Homo sapiens: one gene and its partners. The protein of the gene in region 1 interacts with the protein of each later gene in a pairwise test. Each region holds a gene or a part of one and is shown on either strand. Other genes may lie near its edges.

What was found. The genes of interacting proteins can lie anywhere in the genome.
Region 2: the proteins of UBAC1 (region 1) and MECOM interact in a two-hybrid assay, tested with the Homo sapiens proteins (one study listed by BioGRID).
Region 3: the proteins of UBAC1 (region 1) and RNF216 interact in binary tests that used the Homo sapiens proteins (3 or more experiments, as listed by UniProt).

Annotation. Positions count from the first base shown.
Region 1 is NC_000009.12:135,932,467-135,937,400, forward strand, and holds the end of UBAC1 (ubiquitin-associated domain-containing protein 1), read right to left. Parts: intron 1,050-4,934; coding exon 934-1,049; 3' UTR 503-933; downstream 1-502.
Region 2 is NC_000003.12:169,114,711-169,121,739, reverse strand, and holds part of MECOM (histone-lysine N-methyltransferase MECOM), read left to right. Parts: intron 1-527; coding exon of another isoform or gene 528-530; coding exon 531-684; intron 685-5,000; coding exon 5,001-6,357; intron 6,358-7,029.
Region 3 is NC_000007.14:5,778,662-5,786,026, reverse strand, and holds the start of RNF216 (E3 ubiquitin-protein ligase RNF216), read left to right. Parts: upstream 1-4,363; 5' UTR 4,364-4,486; intron 4,487-5,151; exon of another isoform or gene 5,152-6,042; intron 6,043-7,363; exon of another isoform or gene 7,364-7,365.

The sequences.
Region 1 (4,934 bases):
CAAAAACAATGAAAAGACCTAGATGTGTGGAGAGAAACATTTTCCGAAAACATTCTTACTCAGCTACAATGCAAGCAGAGTTCAGAAGGGGAGGGGGCTGGTTCAGAAGAGAAGTTCAAAACAAACAGCTCGGAACTGACTGCTTCCAGCAACAATAATGAGCAGAGTTCACAAAAAACAAAATAAATTCATTTTCTCATTTTAAGACACCGGTCATGTTTTTTAAAATGAAAAAAAAGGAGGAAGAGGCCAGAGGTAGGCGGAGGCAGCCGTGCTTGGGCTCAGGACCTGTGTCCCAGGAATACGGGCTCAGCTCCAGTCCCTTAAACCCAATACAACACGAGGCTTTGCCAACCAAACATGGCCACAAGGCCTCCCACATGCTGCGGTGGCCCCGGTGCCCGCCCCGGGTCAGAGCAGCCGGCACGGAGCCGCGGGGATGTGGCCTCTCGGGGACGCACGGGTTTCTTGTGCGGCACCAAGAAAAGACGAAGACAGGAAATAGGAAAAGGGACTTTATTAAAGAAAAGTCATCTGTGAGTGACTAGTTAAATTAGCATGCTTGACATTAACTCTGGGTTGAAACCTACCTCCGTCAAATAACAAGTGGACTCTCCAAGCAAATGTCTACACGGCAATTCAAGCAGCAACTCAAGAGCCCAGAGGAGCACTGGAGACGAGGCCATCACTCCACTTCCCAGTGCGACAACCACTTTTTTGTAAACACCTGTCAGATGCTAAAAATACGGCCTTACACACTACCGTCACCAAAGTTTATAAGCAATAAGATCAGAGAGCAGGAGCAGCTGCAGCACCTCTAACAGTCCAGGGCTGAGGCGCTGAAGGTGAGTTTCCAGGTGAGGTCCACTCTGCCCGGTCTCGGGCCGCACCAGGGGGCTGCTGTGGCCTGATAGCCGAGTGGAACAACGCCACCTACGTGCGATTTAGTGTCTGGAAGATTCTAGAGATCTGCAGCATGACAGGCCCCGTTTCTGGATCATTCATCCACTGGGTGCTGTTCAGTGGGTTCTCCAGCATGTCTTCAAATGCTGCAGGGAAAACAGAGCCAGCCTGAGTGCCCACGCCCCCACTCAGCCCACAGGCACAGGCGTGACTTTCCTCTTCGGCAGCTTCCTAATGAAGAGGGTGCGTCTCCAATACAAAGGCCACACAGAGCTCACTGCTAAGTGTGCACTCTCAGGCTGAAACCCACCCAACTCCATCGGATGCACCCATCAAATCAGATCTGATCACAGAGAGTCATGCACTCAATTCTGGCAGGTGGGCAGTGTGCCTGTGCGTGCTCATGGCACCCCCACTCTCGGCAGCTGTCTGGCAGCCGCCAGGGCTCAAAAATCATCTTCCCCAACAACTCCACTTCCAATCCCACCCCGAGAAGGTCAGCAGATGCAGAAAGGACACACACAGACACTGTTGCAAAGTTAACAACAAACTGGAAAAACGTAATGCTCAGCCTTCAGAAAATTCCTTCTTCAAAAAACCAGCACATTAAAAATGCAACACAGCACTTCTTCAAAATGAAAACTTGGGTTTTAACAGCTTTACAAAACTGTTTCCCCAAAACAGGTGGCTTTTAGCAAAAAGCTCTCTGTTCCACCCACTGTGAAGGAGCACGCGTTCTGCCAGCCCCTCTGCCAGGATCGATGGCTCCATGCTGACCTGACACACATGGACGCACTTCAGCATAAGTGGCCCCAGGTCTACAGGCTCCAGGGACAGTGCTCACTACAGAATTCACAGCCATTCACGGCCCAGTAGCCCATGGCTGAGCACAGAGCTCAGAGTGAACCCAACTTGGCTCTGTTCATGATTGGACAATCCCCAGGCCTTAAAACAATCCTCTGGTGTTCTGATTAAAAGTCTCCAAAAACCACTTTAAAATCTCAGAAAAAGCCAGGCACGGTGGCTCATGCCTGTAATTCCAACACTTTGGGAGGCCGAAGCAGGCGGATCATGAGGTCAGGAGATCGAGACCATCCTGGCTAATACGGTAAAACCCTGTCTCTACTAAAAATATAAAAAATTAGCTGGGCGTGGTGGCAGGCGCCTATAATCCCAGCTACTCGGAAGGCTGAGGCAGGAGAATAGCATGAACCAGGGAGGCGGAGCTGGCAGTGAGCCGAGATTGCGCCACTGCACTCCAGCCTGGGCAGCAGAGTGAGACTCCGTCTCAAAAAATAAAAATAAAAATCCCAGAAAAAGACTCAGAAAGAACAAACTATAAGGTGCGAAACAGCTGTTTCACACACAGGGCGGGGAACTTAATTTCCCATTTCCTCTCAATAAACAGCAAAATAAATTCTGGAAGGATGAAAGAGTTGAACAAAAAGATAAAGAGTTAAATATGAAAAACCACACAGATGATTATTTATCTGAGGAAGGACTTTCCTTTTTGAATTTAATTTTTTTTTGAGACAGCGACTTGCTTTGTTGCCCAGGCTGGAGTGCAGTGGAGTGATCATGGCTCACTGCAGCCTTGAACTCCCAGACTCAATGATCCTCCCACCTCAGTCCCCTGAGTAGCAGGGACTACAGGTACGTGTGCCACCACTCCTGGCTGATTTTGTTTTTTTGTTTGTTTGCTTTTTTAGTAGAGAGGAGGTCCTGCTATGTTACCCAGGCTGGTCTCGAACTCCTGAGCTCAAGTGATCCTCTTGCCTCAACCTCCCAAAGTGCTACAATTACAGGCATGAGCCACCATGCCCAACCTGAGGAAGGACTGTCTTCTGTATATCCTAACTTCTGTATGTCAGAAAATGCCACACAAAATTAGAGAGCAAAAACAGTTTACAACATTCAACAAAGGAAGATGTGCCTAATATCCAAGAAGCTATTAAGGAAGCTCTAGGATTAATATTGCAATTGAAAAACACATGTGCCAGGCACAATGGCTCTCGCCTACAATCCCAGCACTCTAGAAGGCAGAGGTGGGGGGAGCGCTTGAAGCCAGGAGTTCAAGACTAGCCTGAGCAAAAAAACGAGACCCCATCTCAACAACAACAAAAAAAATAGCTGGGCATGGTCGTGCATGCCTGTAGTCATAACTACCCATGAGGATGACTTGAGCCCAGGAGGTCAAGGCTGCAGTAAGCTGTGATTGTACCACTGCACTCCAGCCTGGGTGACAGATCAAGACCCTGTCTCCATAAAAAGAAGGAAAACAAATAGATGACACGCATAGACAGTATGTAAAAGAAGAAATGCAATGGCCAACAGAAAAGTATTCAACATTGCTAATAACCAAAAGGAATGCAAGTGGCCAGGCGCAGTAGCTCAAGCCTGTAATCCCAGCACTTTGGGAGGCCGAGACGGGCGGATCACGAGGTCAGGAGATCAAGACCATCCTGGCTAACACGGTGAAACCCTGTCTCTACTAAAAATACAAAAAATTAGCCGGGCACGGTGGCGGGCACCTGTAGTCCCAGCTACTCAGGAGGCTGAGGCAGGAGAATGGCGTGAACCCGGTAGGCGGAGCTTGCAGTGAGCTGAGATCGTGCCACTGCACTCCAGCCTGGGTGACAGAGCGAGATTCCATCTCAAAAAAAAAAAAAAAAAGAGGAATACAAGTTAAAACAATGAAGGTCTTGTCTATAATATGGAGGTGGGCAAGTGTGTGTGCTGGGGGCAGATCTTGCATGGACAGTGGCGCCATCACTGCACTCTAGCCTGGGTGACAGAGAAAGAGCCTATTTCTATTAGGAAAAAAAAAAGAAAAAGTTATTGGACAGACCCCAAGGCAGCACACACTAACATCCTAAGGTATACAAACAGCTGGAGAGCTAGGAGGAATATGCTTTCAGTGTGAAAGGAATCACTAAGAATAAAAATAAACTCACAAAAGACCATTCTCAAGTTTTAGAATTTGGGTACAAAGAAGATCCCTACCTCACACCACACACATACTTCTAGGTAGATTATGGACTTAAATTAAGAGAAACTTTTAACATTTTTGGAAAAAAAAATAAAAGGAAAACGTGTTTCTGACTTTCGGATAGGAGGGTTTTCCTTTTTCTTTTTTTTTTTTTTGAGGTGGAGTCTTGCTCTGACGCCCAGGCTAGAGTGCAGTGGCACGATCTCGGCTCACTGCAACCTCCGCCCCCCAGGTTTAAGCAATTCTCTGCCTCAGCTCCAGAGTAGCTGGGATTACAGGTGCATACCACCATGCCCAACTAATTTTTTGTATTTTTAGTAAAGACAGCGTTTCACCATCTTGGCCAGGCTGGTCTTGAACTCCTGACCTCGTGATCCACCTGCCTCAGCCTCCCAAAGTGCTGGGATTACAGGCGTGAGCCACCACGCCCAGCCATGGAGGGTTTTCTTTAAAGGTTCACATCTTAAAAAAAATACAGACACACTGAAGGACATCAAAACACGGGATTCTGCCCATCAGTGTGAGGAAATAAACCAGAAACTGAACAACGGCATCTGCAACACAAATAATGGGAAAAGGGTCAGCATCCAGGAGGTGAGGACCTTTCTGAATGAATAAGAAAACAATCCAAGAGAAAAGCAGGCCAAACGCTGAGCGGAAGGTCTCTCACAGCCAAGGTTCTACAGGCGGCCAATACGCTTCTGAAAGAAGGCCAGCCTTCAAGATCAGGGCACGGCCATCGCAGCTCCAGAGACACTTCCAGCCTGCTCGGGTGGCAAAGGCCCTCCCAACATCCAGGAACTCAGCTCCTGGGGACCAACAGGTCTGTAATCCCAGCACTTAGGGAGGCTGAGGCAGGTGGATCACGAGGTCAGGAGTTCGAGACCAGCCTGGCAAACATGGTGAAAGCCGTCTCTACTAAAATACGAAAAATTAGCCAGGCGTGGTAGTGCACGCCTGTAATCCCAGGTACTCAGGAGGCTGAGGCAGGAGAATTGCTTGAACCTGGGAGGCGGAGGTTGCAGTGGGCCGAGATCATGCC
Region 2 (7,029 bases), on another chromosome or scaffold:
GTTGGGTGGCTTTTTTATTTTTGTTTTTAGTACAATGTCTAAAGGAATGGTTTTAGCTTGCTAGTAACTCACTGAAAGAGTGTTAGAATTTTACGCCCTAGGGAAACTCTTTAAATAGATTTAATGTAGTTAGTCAAAATCCTCCAAATTTTTGTACACAATGTGTCTTTATTTAAAGGGTGAAAATAGCACACCAGTTTTAATAATGGCTTAACCAGCATTTTATTATTCAACTCAAGTCACTCTAAATGGTATCAAAAAGGCCTTGAATATGGCCTAATAGTGCCATTCATTATTTGGTTCAACTGATACCAGTGGATACACCATGCTAAGGATATAGAGCAGAATAATTTACAGTTCCTACCCTAGAGGAGAGTACATTTTGGAAATTAGAGGAGAGTACACTTTTGGTCTTTGGGGAAAAGAAAAACAAAACAAATAAGAAAAATTTCTTCTTGAGTCATCCCGGGTCTTCTTTATTGTGCCCTTGAGTTAAGTTTCTTGATTAATCAGTACTCATTTCCTAGCAGGTTTTCACGGACCCTAGCAACCTTCAGCGGCACATTCGCTCTCAGCATGTCGGTGCCCGGGCCCATGCATGCCCGGAGTGTGGCAAAACGTTTGCCACTTCGTCGGGCCTCAAACAACACAAGCACATCCACAGCAGTGTGAAGCCCTTTATCTGTAAGTTTTCAACACTCCAGCCCTCCTTCCCACATCTGTCTCTTCCCCAAAAGGCACTGTGACCAGGAGAGTGGCTGCACATGGCCTTTAGAGGGTCACCGTGTTAGCTATTTATGGTCCAATCCAGTAGGGCTATTTATGATTACAAGTAAATCTTTTATAATCAGATCCATGGTATTTTGTCCTTGATTCCTGGGGTGTTTTCTTTCAGAAGAAATCAATAACAGGTAGAGAAAAGAAAATTCATTAGATAATCAAAGGGAAACCTCCACAGGTTGTAGGATTTAATCAGGACAATCAGATTTGTCTCATATTGTAAATGTTCATGGCTTTGTAAAGCAGCAAATAGCAGCCATCACTAAACAAGATGAAGTGATTAAAAACCTGTTCTGGATCAGAAAGAGCTGGAAGAAGCCCACCTGGGAAGTAGGCTTACGGCTCTGTGTGCATGTATGTGAGTATATGTGTGTGGAGAGAGCGAGGGGGATGAAATGCTTTTTAATCTACCCATTGTTGCCGATCACAGGCTGTCGGATCTGTAGTTCTCTGTTACTTGAAGAAAAGCAGAACATTTTCACTTAGATGCTGGACATGCTGTTTCTCTTACCCACTGCACCAAAGCAAGTTTATAGGCAGTGTGCTTTTAGGGGACATCTGATCTGACCACCTACTTAGAACATCCCTGTACAGAGCACTGTAGTAACATCCTTCAAATACAATAAAACTCAGCTCTCATTTGCTTTTTCTTCTCTCCGCCCACTCCTATTCTCTGTATTGTGCTCAAACATTTTATAAGTAAAATCAGTTGTTCTTAGTCTACCTGGGCAAAAAATCTGGGCTTCTTTTAATCCATTGCTTGGCGGGGCATATAAATACAATGACTTATTGAGTTGTGCTACAAACGTCAAGACTGATTTTGGACCCAGATACACATAGAATTGGTTGAAGCATACTCAGCACTTGGCAAGACCTCTGACTTTGGTTTGTAGTAGGTATATGAGACACTACTACAGGACCTGATGGAAAAAACTATTTTTCAGTGCCAACATGGAGATGCCAGAGACTAACTCTCCTTTGCCTCGACACAGCTTTCTTTTGTGTGTCCAAGCACCAAAATAGCTTTTCTTTCCTTTTCCAGCTTACACTAGAGTCCTGTTTTGCTCATATGCTCTTCTGTTCCCCGGGTGAAGAGGACTAGCAGATTAAAAAAGGGTGCTCTCATCTCCCTTGGGGAAGCTCTATTGAAGGTCACGGGAAATAAAGCATTCAATAGAAATTTTAGACTTCTTGTCGCAAAAAGGCATTCCTGACTCTTAAGTCTTAATGCCCTGAAAATGTACTTGGAAGTACTACAGGCATACGATATTAAATAGTTCATTTATTTCTGATTCCTCAGAAATAAATTTTGGTAAGTTTTATTATGTTTTGATGTGAGAAAAAACTAGAATAAACCACAAGGAATTCTGATCACTCATTTAATGCTTTCTCTATTATTTAAAATAAAAGTCAGAAAATATAGACTTCTGCTATCGAAGATTCTGGGATCTGGAATTTTAATTGTGTTGAAGACAAGTGTTTCACTTTAAAGTGCCATAGGGTGTCCCTTTCCAATCAGATTGCATAAAGTATTTCCCTTGAATGTATTTTCAGTAATTATTGGTAAATTTAAATAGCAGATGGCATTCTTCAAATTTAAAATCTGCCAGAGAACCATGGAGTAATTATGAATAATAGCCATGTAATTTCAGAACAAAAGAGATTAAAGATCAGGAAATGGTGTGGAGACTTGAGTGGAGGAGGTTCACCTAGGGCTGATATCTGTTTCTCACCAGAAGGCCACACACCACGATTTACCCCCACTGGTGTGTTTATGGCAACTGTCTCTTATTACAGTGTGCTGCCACGCTTGAGCCCAAAGTCACCAGTGCTAAGGTAATTACTCACTGCCTTTACAGAAACCTACAGCTTTCCCAAATAGAAACCACATGCTCTAATAGGCTGAATATATTCAAAATGCCTCTTAATTTGTTTAATAAGTAGAAAAATGCAATGTTAACTGCTGGCTAATTCCTTATTACTGAGAAAATTACAGTAGAGTATAAACTTCAACATCAATTGAACCAGTTTACCTGGAGGCCTGGTAGTTTGTGGTATGCCAGGCCAGGCCTTCAAGTGCCGAAAACAAAGCCTCTGCCTAAGAAAACATCCCAGATTCGATGTTCTTGAGCCCAGACACAGACAGCACTCAGCCATGTAACAACGGGTGCCACCAGAAAAGTCAGCTGAACTTCTGTTACTCCAATAGAGAGAAGCTCTTGATTTTTTTTTTTTAAGCCATCTGATTGTAAGAAAGAAGTGTAGAGAGCAACATTTCCTTGCCAAAAAATGACAAGTCTTTGAAAAACTTATGTCTTGGTTGAATACTCATCAAGACATTTTTTCAATGCCTTTTAAGAGGTGTTGCTTTCTTACTTTTTATAATTCCAATAATAAAATATTGTTATTGCTTGTAGCTATAAATTATTCTAATATATCTAGTAAACATCTGATGTTTCTACCTTCTCCATTATTTGATTTTAATTAGTGTATCAAACAGTTTAAATTAGATGTATATTTATGGTGTATGGTTAAATTGTATATACTTTTAAAGCTGACTCTGGTCGATATATTCTGGTAAAATAATTTGAAAAGATATCACCCACATCTTCTATTCCCATTAAAATGCATGTTACAGCCTCTGTAACGTTGTGATTCATCCCACAATTGAAGGCACCTTTAATATTACCAAACACTTTGATATATGCAACAATACACTTTAACCTTTAGTAGTAAAAGAAAGAGATATACCCTTACTTGGTACTTCCTGTTTGGATGTATGTGGGATAATCCAAGCTCTGGGTGAGTTTTGCTTGACTGAAAGTCTATAAAATCTCCTTGACATGAGTTTTTTTTTTTAATTATTATTGCTTTGACTTAGAAGCACAATCATTCTGCACTTAAAGGCAGCCATCATATGAAAGCAATAACTGTTGCATTTTGTCTTCAATTTAATTTCTTAAAATAAATTTGCTTCAACAATTACCAACAAGGTACATCTTGTTTCTGCATGTATTGAACATGCACAGAAGTGTTAAAATAAGCTCACACATAACGTGGCTCAATCCCGTAAAGTAAAATAAAAAATGTGATGCTCAGGGTACTGATACTGTAATACTGCTGGACAGTGAAGTGAGTGATTCTTACCTGGTAAAGGAGTTATTAAGGGTTACAAAGTTTGGTCTTAAAATATACTTGGCTATAGTGGCACATGTGTGAGGAGGAAGATTCTACTTTATTGACAAATTCTTAGCAAAGAGGCATATTTCACAGCTGCATCCAATGCTGTGCCCTTCTTTCTGGATTAGAGCTTTCACAGTGCTCTCCCCTACTGAGCATAGTTGGCTATAACACACAGAAGTCAAGCCTGAGATAACCAGTGTAGATATGACAACAAGTGGACATGTTTCCCAAGGACGGGGTTTTCATAAATGCAGGAAGGTTAGCACAACCACTGGTGTGAGGGGAAGTCAGAGGACGTGATCATAGTTCATGGGAACCAGCAATGCAGGATGGGCTACATTCAATTTAGTTTCCTTTGCAGGCTTAAAATAGAGCCATTGTAAATTATGTCAGTCTTTCTCAAATCATGAAAATGATTGTTAAAAAAAGTCTCAGAATACACAATGTGCATTGTTGTGTGGCTTTGATGTGTGAATGATGAGAGCATATGATATAATACCAATTAAATAATAGCAGGGCAGTCACAGGCTTTTTCCCCAAGGGGAGAGGCAATAAAGGTGAAGTTTCTGGTTGAGGATATTTTATTTTGTTTTGGTGCCTACAAAATAGAATTTTTAAGTACTCTAAAATTTGAAAGGGGTTCTTGTTGTGTTTTGTACGTAATGCATTTTAAGACTAATTTTCAACATTATATTAGTATAATAATTGTGTGGAGAATCAATGCATGATGGAATTTAACTTTTCATAAATATTTAAATACACAAATATTATGCAAAATATTGCACAAGGGGGTGACAAGATATATATATCTATATATATGAAATATTTGTGCTGCCTCAAGACATTTGTCAGGTTGGTTGCCTTGCTTTGGAATCTAGTGAAATGGGGTTTTCTGTGTTTGGAGCACCCAGATTGGTGCCTCCAATGTCTTTTACTGGCTTCCTAATTGAAATTTTGAGTAAACCAATTGTGATATTTGCTAAATTCAGAAGCAATTGACATAAAGCCTGAGATTCTTTTTTGTTGTTTGCACACAGGTGAGGTCTGCCATAAATCCTATACTCAGTTTTCAAACCTTTGCCGTCATAAGCGCATGCATGCTGATTGCAGAACCCAAATCAAGTGCAAAGACTGTGGACAAATGTTCAGCACTACGTCTTCCTTAAATAAACACAGGAGGTTTTGTGAGGGCAAGAACCATTTTGCGGCAGGTGGATTTTTTGGCCAAGGCATTTCACTTCCTGGAACCCCAGCTATGGATAAAACGTCCATGGTTAATATGAGTCATGCCAACCCGGGCCTTGCTGACTATTTTGGCGCCAATAGGCATCCTGCTGGTCTTACCTTTCCAACAGCTCCTGGATTTTCTTTTAGCTTCCCTGGTCTGTTTCCTTCCGGCTTGTACCACAGGCCTCCTTTGATACCTGCTAGTTCTCCTGTTAAAGGACTATCAAGTACTGAACAGACAAACAAAAGTCAAAGTCCCCTCATGACACATCCTCAGATACTGCCAGCTACACAGGATATTTTGAAGGCACTATCTAAACACCCATCTGTAGGGGACAATAAGCCAGTGGAGCTCCAGCCCGAGAGGTCCTCTGAAGAGAGGCCCTTTGAGAAAATCAGTGACCAGTCAGAGAGTAGTGACCTTGATGATGTCAGTACACCAAGTGGCAGTGACCTGGAAACAACCTCGGGCTCTGATCTGGAAAGTGACATTGAAAGTGATAAAGAGAAATTTAAAGAAAATGGTAAAATGTTCAAAGACAAAGTAAGCCCTCTTCAGAATCTGGCTTCAATAAATAATAAGAAAGAATACAGCAATCATTCCATTTTCTCACCATCTTTAGAGGAGCAGACTGCGGTGTCAGGAGCTGTGAATGATTCTATAAAGGCTATTGCTTCTATTGCTGAAAAATACTTTGGTTCAACAGGACTGGTGGGGCTGCAAGACAAAAAAGTTGGAGCTTTACCTTACCCTTCCATGTTTCCCCTCCCATTTTTTCCAGCATTCTCTCAATCAATGTACCCATTTCCTGATAGAGACTTGAGATCGTTACCTTTGAAAATGGAACCCCAATCACCAGGTGAAGTAAAGAAACTGCAGAAGGGCAGCTCTGAGTCCCCCTTTGATCTCACCACTAAGCGAAAGGATGAGAAGCCCTTGACTCCAGTCCCCTCCAAGCCTCCAGTGACACCTGCCACAAGCCAAGACCAGCCCCTGGATCTAAGTATGGGCAGTAGGAGTAGAGCCAGTGGGACAAAGCTGACTGAGCCTCGAAAAAACCACGTGTTTGGGGGAAAAAAAGGAAGCAACGTCGAATCAAGACCTGCTTCAGATGGTTCCTTGCAGCATGCAAGACCCACTCCTTTCTTTATGGACCCTATTTACAGGTAAGCGTGTATGGAAGATGACGAAATATGAGCAGATGTATGAAAGGCGGTATTTCCACTGTAAAGTGATGGCTTTTTAACACATCATTTTTACTATTATTATAAAACAGAGTGAAGTTGTTTGATCTAGTGAACTCATTTTTTATTCTGAAAGTTGGATCATTCTGTTTGAACTTATTTTTGGATGTTTCTGAAGTTGGGGGTTTGGAATAGGCCTACAGAATTTTTTTCCCTTGACAATAAATTTATTTTTAAACACTTTTTTTGGAGTGGAAAATATGGGAAAGTCATATTTAAAGTAAATTGTCAAGTGGCGGAAGAATGAGGATCCTGAAGGATTAATGCAAATATGCGTGGGTACTTAAATGGGTCAGGTTCTTTGGAATGGGGGGGATATCTAACAGCAAGAGTCCACTCTTTTTTGACCTACCAACACATCCTTAATAAGGGCTGGTCATATTGTTTCTAAATAAATCTCTCAGGAGCCCCCAAGTAAATGAAATATTAATCACAGAATATGTTTTGTATATAATATGAGTAGTTGGCTTAAAAAATGTCTCTGTTTAATAGCTTCATTATCCGGTTTCCTTTGATGTAGCAAAAAAATCTTGGGGTGAAACATACAAGTTTAATAAAAGGCCTTTTTGGCAATATTCAGTAATATTCACCTGA
Region 3 (7,365 bases), on another chromosome or scaffold:
AGGCCGAGGCAGGAGGATCACTTGAGGCCAGGAGTTTGAGACCAGCCTGAGAAACACAGCGAGACCCCATCTATACAAAAAAATTAAAAAATTAGTCGGGCGTGGTGGCACACACCTGTAGTCCCAGCTACTCAGGAGGCAGGGGTGGGAGGGTCACTTGAGCCTGGGAGGTCAAGGCTGCAGTGAACTATGATTGACTGAGTCACTGCACTCTAGCCTCGGTGACAGAGTGAGACCCCCAACCCCACCCCACCCCCCTCCAAAAAAAAACAGGGCCGGGCACAGTGGCTCACGCCTGTGATGCCAACACTTTGGAAGGCCGAAGCAGGCAGATCACCTGAGGTCAGGAGTTCAAGACTAGCTTGGCCAACGTGGTGAAACCCTGCCTCTACTGAAAATACAAAAATTAGGCGGATGTGGTGGCGGGCACCTGTAATCTCAGCTACTTGGGCTGAGACTCGAGAATCACTTGAATCCGGGAGGCAGAGTTTGCAGTGAGCCAAGATCATGCCATTGCACTCCAGCATGAGCGACAAGAGTGAAACTCCGTCTCCAAAAAAAAAAAAAAAAAAAAAAGGCCAGAGGCTTCAAAAGTAACCAGAATGATTCCAGTTCAAAAGTAACCAGAATGATTCCAGTTCAAAAGTAACCAGAATGATTCCAGACAACCTAGAAGGAGGGAGTAGCTTCCTCTCGCCCTCACTGGGAAAAATGCAGAGATATGATAGTTGTCTTTATGACTCCGAAAATGCTTAAGACAAGAAGAGCATGTAAACAAATAACTCCTATGAGAGCTTCTCAATTCACACATGATCCCATTTCATCCTTGCAAGAACACCGGGCAATAGATAATATCTTAAAATTCCCATTTTACAAATAAAAAATTCCCCGCCAGACATGGCAGTTCACATCTGCCATCCCACCACTTTAGGAGGGCAAGATGGAAGGATCACTTAGAGCCAGGAGTTCGAGACCACCCTGGGCAACAAAGCGAGACTCTGTTTCTATAATTTTTTTTTTTTTTTGAGGCGAAGTCTTGCTGTGTTACCTAGGCTGGGGTGCAGTGGCGCAACCTCGGCTCACTGCAACCTCTGCCTCCTGGGTTAAAGTGATTCTCCTGCCTCAGCCTCCTGTGTAGCTGGGACTAGAGGCATGTGTCACCACACCTGGCTATCTATTAATGTTTTTTTAAATTAAACTTCAAAATAAAGGCCTGGCATGGTGGCTTACACCTGTAATCCCAGCACTTTGGGCTGAGACAGGCAGATCACCTGAGGTGAGGAGTTTGAGACCAGCATGGCCAACATGGTGAAACCCCGTCTCTACAAAAAATATTTTAAAAATTAGCCGGGTGTGATGGTGGGTGCCTGTAGTCCCAGCTACTTGGGAGACTGAGCCAGGAGAATCGCTTGAACCTGGGAGGCAGAGGTTCCAGTGAGGCAAGATCGTGCCACTGCACTCCAGCCTGGGCGATGGAAGGAGACACCGTCTCAAAAATAAATAAATAAAGACAAAAATAAAGTCTCTCTTCTCATTGCCATCACGTCTGAGTCAGAGTCTCCAAAAAGCCTGAACAAATAAAAAATTCCAGACTCAGGCCAGGTGCGGTGGCTCATGCCTGTAATTCCAGCACTTTGGGAGGCCAAGGCGGGTGGATCACGAGGTCAGGAGATCGAGACCATCCTGGCTAACACGGCGAAACCCCATCTCTACTAAAAATACAAAAAAAAATTAGCCCTTGGTGGCGGGCGCCTGTAGTCCCAGCTACTCGGGAGGCTGAGGCAGGAGAACGGCGTGAGCCCAGGAGGCGGAGCTTGCAGTGAACCAAGATCGCGCCACCGCACTCCAGACTGGGTGGCACAGCAAGACTTCATCTCAAAAAAAAAAAAAAAAAAAGCTAGACTCAGAGAGGTTACTCGATCGCACCTGCCTTGGGTGTGACACCAACCACAGAGGGGTTCAGTGGTCCGGAAAGAACCTTGCACTCCTGCTAAGATCACCAAGCTCTCCTTCCAATACTGCTTTCTTCCAACATCTCAAAGGGCTTATGAGGACCATCCTAAGAAGAAGGCTGTAACTGACAGCGATTATCCACCTCCCCCAAGAGGACCAGCATGGAGGATAAGCTCATCAAGGCCAATGCCTTTGTTTTACCTTCCAGGTGATTCCAGGATCTCATCTCAGGTAAGTATCTATCTTAAACTCTCTCTCCTGTTCACCCTCTAATGTCTCCCATGCACTGCACCCTCTAACTCAGGGCCTGACATCTGTAAGATCCCTAGATCCTCGTCCTGTTCTGTAAGCAGCCCTTCAATTTCTACTTCACTGAAACATGACTATTCCCTCAGGACACTGTTCCCCAAAGCACTATGAGTAGTGGTCTTTTTCTGTCCCATGCAAGCCCCCATAAGCCACACTCTACTGTCTTAGAGAAGGAACACTCATTGCCGCATCAAGACTATTGTTCCTCTCATTTCCCTGTTTTGTTTTTGTTTGCTTCTTTTGAGACAGGCTGTTGTTCTGTCATCCAGGCTGGAGTGCAGCAGTGCAATCATAGCTCACAGCAGCCTCGGACTCCTGGGCTCAAACAATCCTCTGGCCGGGTTTAGTGGCTCGCTCCTGTAATTCCAGCACTTTGGTAGGCCGAGGTGGGTAGATTACCTGAGGTCAGGAGTTCAAGACCAGCCTGGCCAACATGGTGAAACCCTGTCTCTACTGAAAATACGAAAATTAGCCGGGCGTGGTGGCACATGCTTGTAATCCCAGCTACTCAGGAGGCTGAGGCAGGAGAATCGCTTGAGCCCAGAAGGTGGAGGTTGCAGTGAGCCAAGATCGTGCCACCGCACTCCAGCCTGGCTGACAGAGTGAGATTCTGTCCAAAAAAACAAAACAAACAAAACAAAACAAAACAAAAAAATCCTCCCACCTCAGTCTCCTGAGTAGCTGGGACTATAGGTGCGCACCACCATGCCCGGCTAATTTTTATTTTTGTAAAGATGGGGTCTTACTCTATTGCCCAGGATCGTCTCAAACTCCTGGCTTCAAGCCATCCTCCCACCTCCATTTCCCAAAATGTTCGGATTCCAGGTATAAGCCACTATGCCCAGCCCAGACTCATTTATCTAATTACTGACTTGATATCTCTACTTGAAGGTGTACTTGGCAATTTTTTTTTTTTTGAGACACAGTCTCACTCTGTTACCCAGGCTGAAGTGCAGTGGCATAATCACTGCACTACAACCTCCCCCTCCTCGGTTCAAGCAATTCTTGTGCCTCGGCCTCCCGAGTAGCTCGGATTACAGGCACGCACCACCATGCCCAGCTAATTTTTGTATTTTTAGTAGAGACGGGGTTTCACCATGGTGGCCAGGCTGGTCTCGAACTCCTGACCTCAAGTGATCTGCCTGCCTCGGCCTCCCAATGTGCTGGGATTACAGGCGTGAACCACCACGCCTGGCCAGCAATTATTTTAAGAGTTGGGGTCTTGCTATTTTGCTAAGGCTGGTCTTGAACTCCTGGCCTCAAGCGATCCTCCTGCCTTGGCCTTCCAAAGCGCGGGGATTATGGACATGAGCCACTGTGCCCAGCAGGAGCAGTATTTTAGTCAGTTATTCACTTGCTCACTAAAACCTAAACTTCCTGAGGCCAGGAACACATTTTACTTTTTTTTTTTTTCGAGATGGAGGGTTGCTCTGTTGCCCAGGCTGGAGTGCAGGGGCGCCATGTTGGCTCACTACAACCTCCGCCTCCCAGGTTCAAGTGATTTTCCCGCCTCAGCCTCCTGAGTAGCTGGGATTACAGGCATCCGCCACCATGCCTGGCTAATTTTTTTATTTTTGGTAGAGACGGGTTTCACCATGTTGGCCAGGCTGGTCTCCAACGTCTGACCTCAAGTGATCCACCCGCCTTGGCCTCCCAAAGTGCTGGGATTACAGGCGTGAGCCACTGTGCCCAGCCATGGGACCCACTTTACTCTTAATTTCCCCAATTCCTAGAACAGTGTGTGGCCCACAGGAAATCCGCAGAATATATTTGCAGAATGAATGAATGACTTGCCAAACGAATTAGGGCAAATCAGTAGATATCGAGTAAACATCCACAACCACCTGCCCCATACCCTTTTCAGCTCTGGGGAGATGGTGGCTCCTTGTGGGGTCGGATATGGGGGTCTCCTTTCCTTTCACCCTCCTGCCTCGTGGGGGAGTCAAGTCTCCGCAGGCGGAGAGCCCGGATGCAGGCGCGACTAGGCGGCCCTCTCTATGGTGAGCCCCCCGGTCCCTCCTCCGCAGTACCCGGAGTGCCTCTATGGTTCTTCCTGTCCTTAGTCGGGAGGGGGCGCTGTGCGCAGGCGCGAGGTGACGCCGCGGCAGGGCCGGAAGGAGTGCAGCGGCTGCCACGGAGCTCGCAGCTGCGGCTTCTGAGGAGTAAGCGGCGCGGTAGCGAAGGCCGCCGAACCTGCCTGGCTAGCCGGCGACTTGAGTGACGAGTGAGTGTCGGCTGCGGGGCGCGCTCGAGCTCCTGGGCGGGTCTGTGAGGCGACGCGGCCTCTCTGAGGGGCGCCTCTGTGGAGCTCCGGGGGTGGGGGCGGGGGCGCGGGCCGTGAGGGCCGCCGAGCTGAGGGGCGCGGGCCGAGGCCCGGGCGGGATCGGGCCAAGGGGCTGGGCTGGGCGTCTCGAGCCCGGTGCGGTGGCGAGGCTGGAGCGACAAAGGCGCTGAGCGGCCGGGTGGCCCCCTCTCGCCACTTCGCGAAGTTTCGCGGGCCGGCCCCTCGGGTCTGCTGCGCGAGGGCAACAGCCCGGGAGACCGCGCTTCCCTCCCCCGGGCCCGAGGCCGCCGCGGAGGCGGTGTCCGTGCACCCGAGCGCGGCCTGGAGGAGCGGCGGGAGGCGGGCCGTGCCTGTGAACCCCAGCCCAGGCGGGCGGCGTTTTTCCTCCTCTTCCCTCACATCTGGAGCGCGTGTTCCGCGAAAGTTGGCGACTGTCACCCGGCACTCGCGAGGGCGCCGCAAGTGCGTCAAACCCTTCTGCGGGGCGCTGGGGGCTGGCCCGGCTCGGGTGTCCGGGCGCTGGGCAGCGAGCGAGGCCGCTGTCCCCGCGTCGAGGTGGTTCTGCTCCCGGTGGAACAGGACCAGGGATCCAAGACTCTGGGCCACTTGCAACCAACCCTGGAGCGTGCGCGGCGTGCGGGTTACAGAAATTTCTGACAAATCCGACAGGGCTCTGTAAATCCCTAAGGGCCTGGGTAGCAGCTGTCCTAGGTACTTAGATCGTGCAAAGAGAACGTTCTTTTTTCTTTTACTTTTTTTTTTTTCTCCTTTTCTTTGAGACGGAGTCTTGCTCTGTTGCCCAGGCTGGAGTGCAGTGGCGCGATCCCGGCTCACTGCAAGCTCTGCCTCCCGGATTCAAGCGATTTTCCTGCCTCAGCCTCACAGGGATTGCCTCAGCTGGGATTACAGGCATTTGCCACCACGTCCAGCTAATTTTTGTATTTTTAGTAGAGACGGGATTTCTCCGTGTTGGCCAGGCTGGTCTCTAACGTCTGACCTCAGGTGATCCCTCCGCCTCGGCCTCCCAAAGTGCTACAGTCTTTTCAAAAGACGTTTCAGATATGTTCTCCGGGACCCTCGGGCCCTTCAGTAAGAAGCGCCCTGGCTGAAAACCCACACGTTCACCTACAGAAGAAGCACTGTGACGTAGAGGGTGAGCAGAGCAGAGGGCCTCACAGTGGCCCTCACATGCACCTGGCTCCAGCCTGGCCAGGTCATTTTGCCCTGGTGGGCCTGTGCCTCAAAAATGGGGTTTCTTCCCTTGTGAGGAAGACCCATGAATTAGTAACGGAATTGCCAGGAATGCTAAAAACTATCTAAATGCCATGTATTGTTTTCAAGCTGTTACTCCTGGAAGGGGCTGGGTTGGCATTGTTTTAGAGGTTAGGAGCCAAACATCAGCTCATCTATTCTCCAGCTGTTGTTTGTCCTCCATCTTCCTGCAATAGTCAGGCACAGGGTCTTATAAAAATGGGTTTGTGCTGCTGTATGTTTCGGTGGGTACCTTTGTTTACTGAATGGGATGTAGGTGGGGGACCAGAGCATATCCGCGTCCCTCGGAAACAGTGGCGTTTTAGATGTAGTATGTCCCGTCAGCTCCTCTCTGCCCCACCCACCCCAGCCCATTCATTGAGCATTTTTTTTTTTTTTTTGAGGCGGAGTCTGGCTGTATTTCCCAGGCTAAAGTGCAGTGGTGCCATCTCTGCCCACTGCACCCTCCGCCTGCCAGCTTCAAGTAATTCTCCTGCCTCAGCCTCCCGAGTAGCTGGAATTACAGGCGCGCACCACCACGCTCGGCTAACTTTTTTTTTTTTTTTTTTTTTTAAGAGACGGAGTCTAGCTGTGCTGCCCAACTCCTGGGTTTAAGTGACCCTCAGCCTCCCAAAGCACAAGAATTACAGGCTTTAGCCACCGTGCTCTGCCAGAACATTCTTTACGCGCTGAGAAGGGAGAGAAGCGGGAAGATTCTATGAAACATCTCAATTTAGTCGGCTTGCTTTAAGGAAGAAGGCTAATACATGGCCTGGCTTTGCCTTGGTTTTGTATTTCATAATTTATTGCGCCTGGGGTGTGGGGAGTAGTGGTGGATTTGAGGAAATGCCTGGAGAGTCTGGGCCAGATTTTGGACCCCCTGGCAAACCTCATTCGAGGCTTTAGATTTTTACCCTGATTAGAGCAGCAGCAGCTAATAAAAGAGAACTCCTGAAGCCCCTGTGGAGAAATCTGATAAAGAAGGGTTAGGTGTGAGTGAGGCAGATCGAAAGTTGATGAATAGGATAGTTGAGAGAGCTGGTATTTGCTGATTCTACTACCAGCTACTATTTAATGTGTTTACAAAATTCTAGGCATTGCTATATTCTAGCTCTTTAGAGACATAATTCATTCTCATACCTGATATCATTATATTTGCATTATTGTTAAAGATAATAGAACATAGTTGGGAATGGTGTGGCTCACGCCCGTAATCCCAGCACTTTGGGAGGCCGAGGCGGGCAGATCACCTAAGGTCAGGAGTTCGAGACCAGCCTGGCCAACATGGTGAAACCCCGTCTCTACTAAAAATACAAAAATTAGCCAGGTGTGATGGCGTGCGCCTGTAATCCCAGCTACTGGGGAGGCTGAGGCAGGAGAATCACATGAACTCGGGAGGCGGAGGTTGCAGTGATCCGAGATTGTGCCACTGCACTCCAGCCTGGGTGACAGAGCGAGACTCCGTCTCAAAAATAATAATAATTTTAAAAAAAGAAACTGAGGTGCTGAAAAATATCTAGTCCCAAAACTTGTAAGGGTCAGCGTGGAACTTGAACTCAGTTTGGACC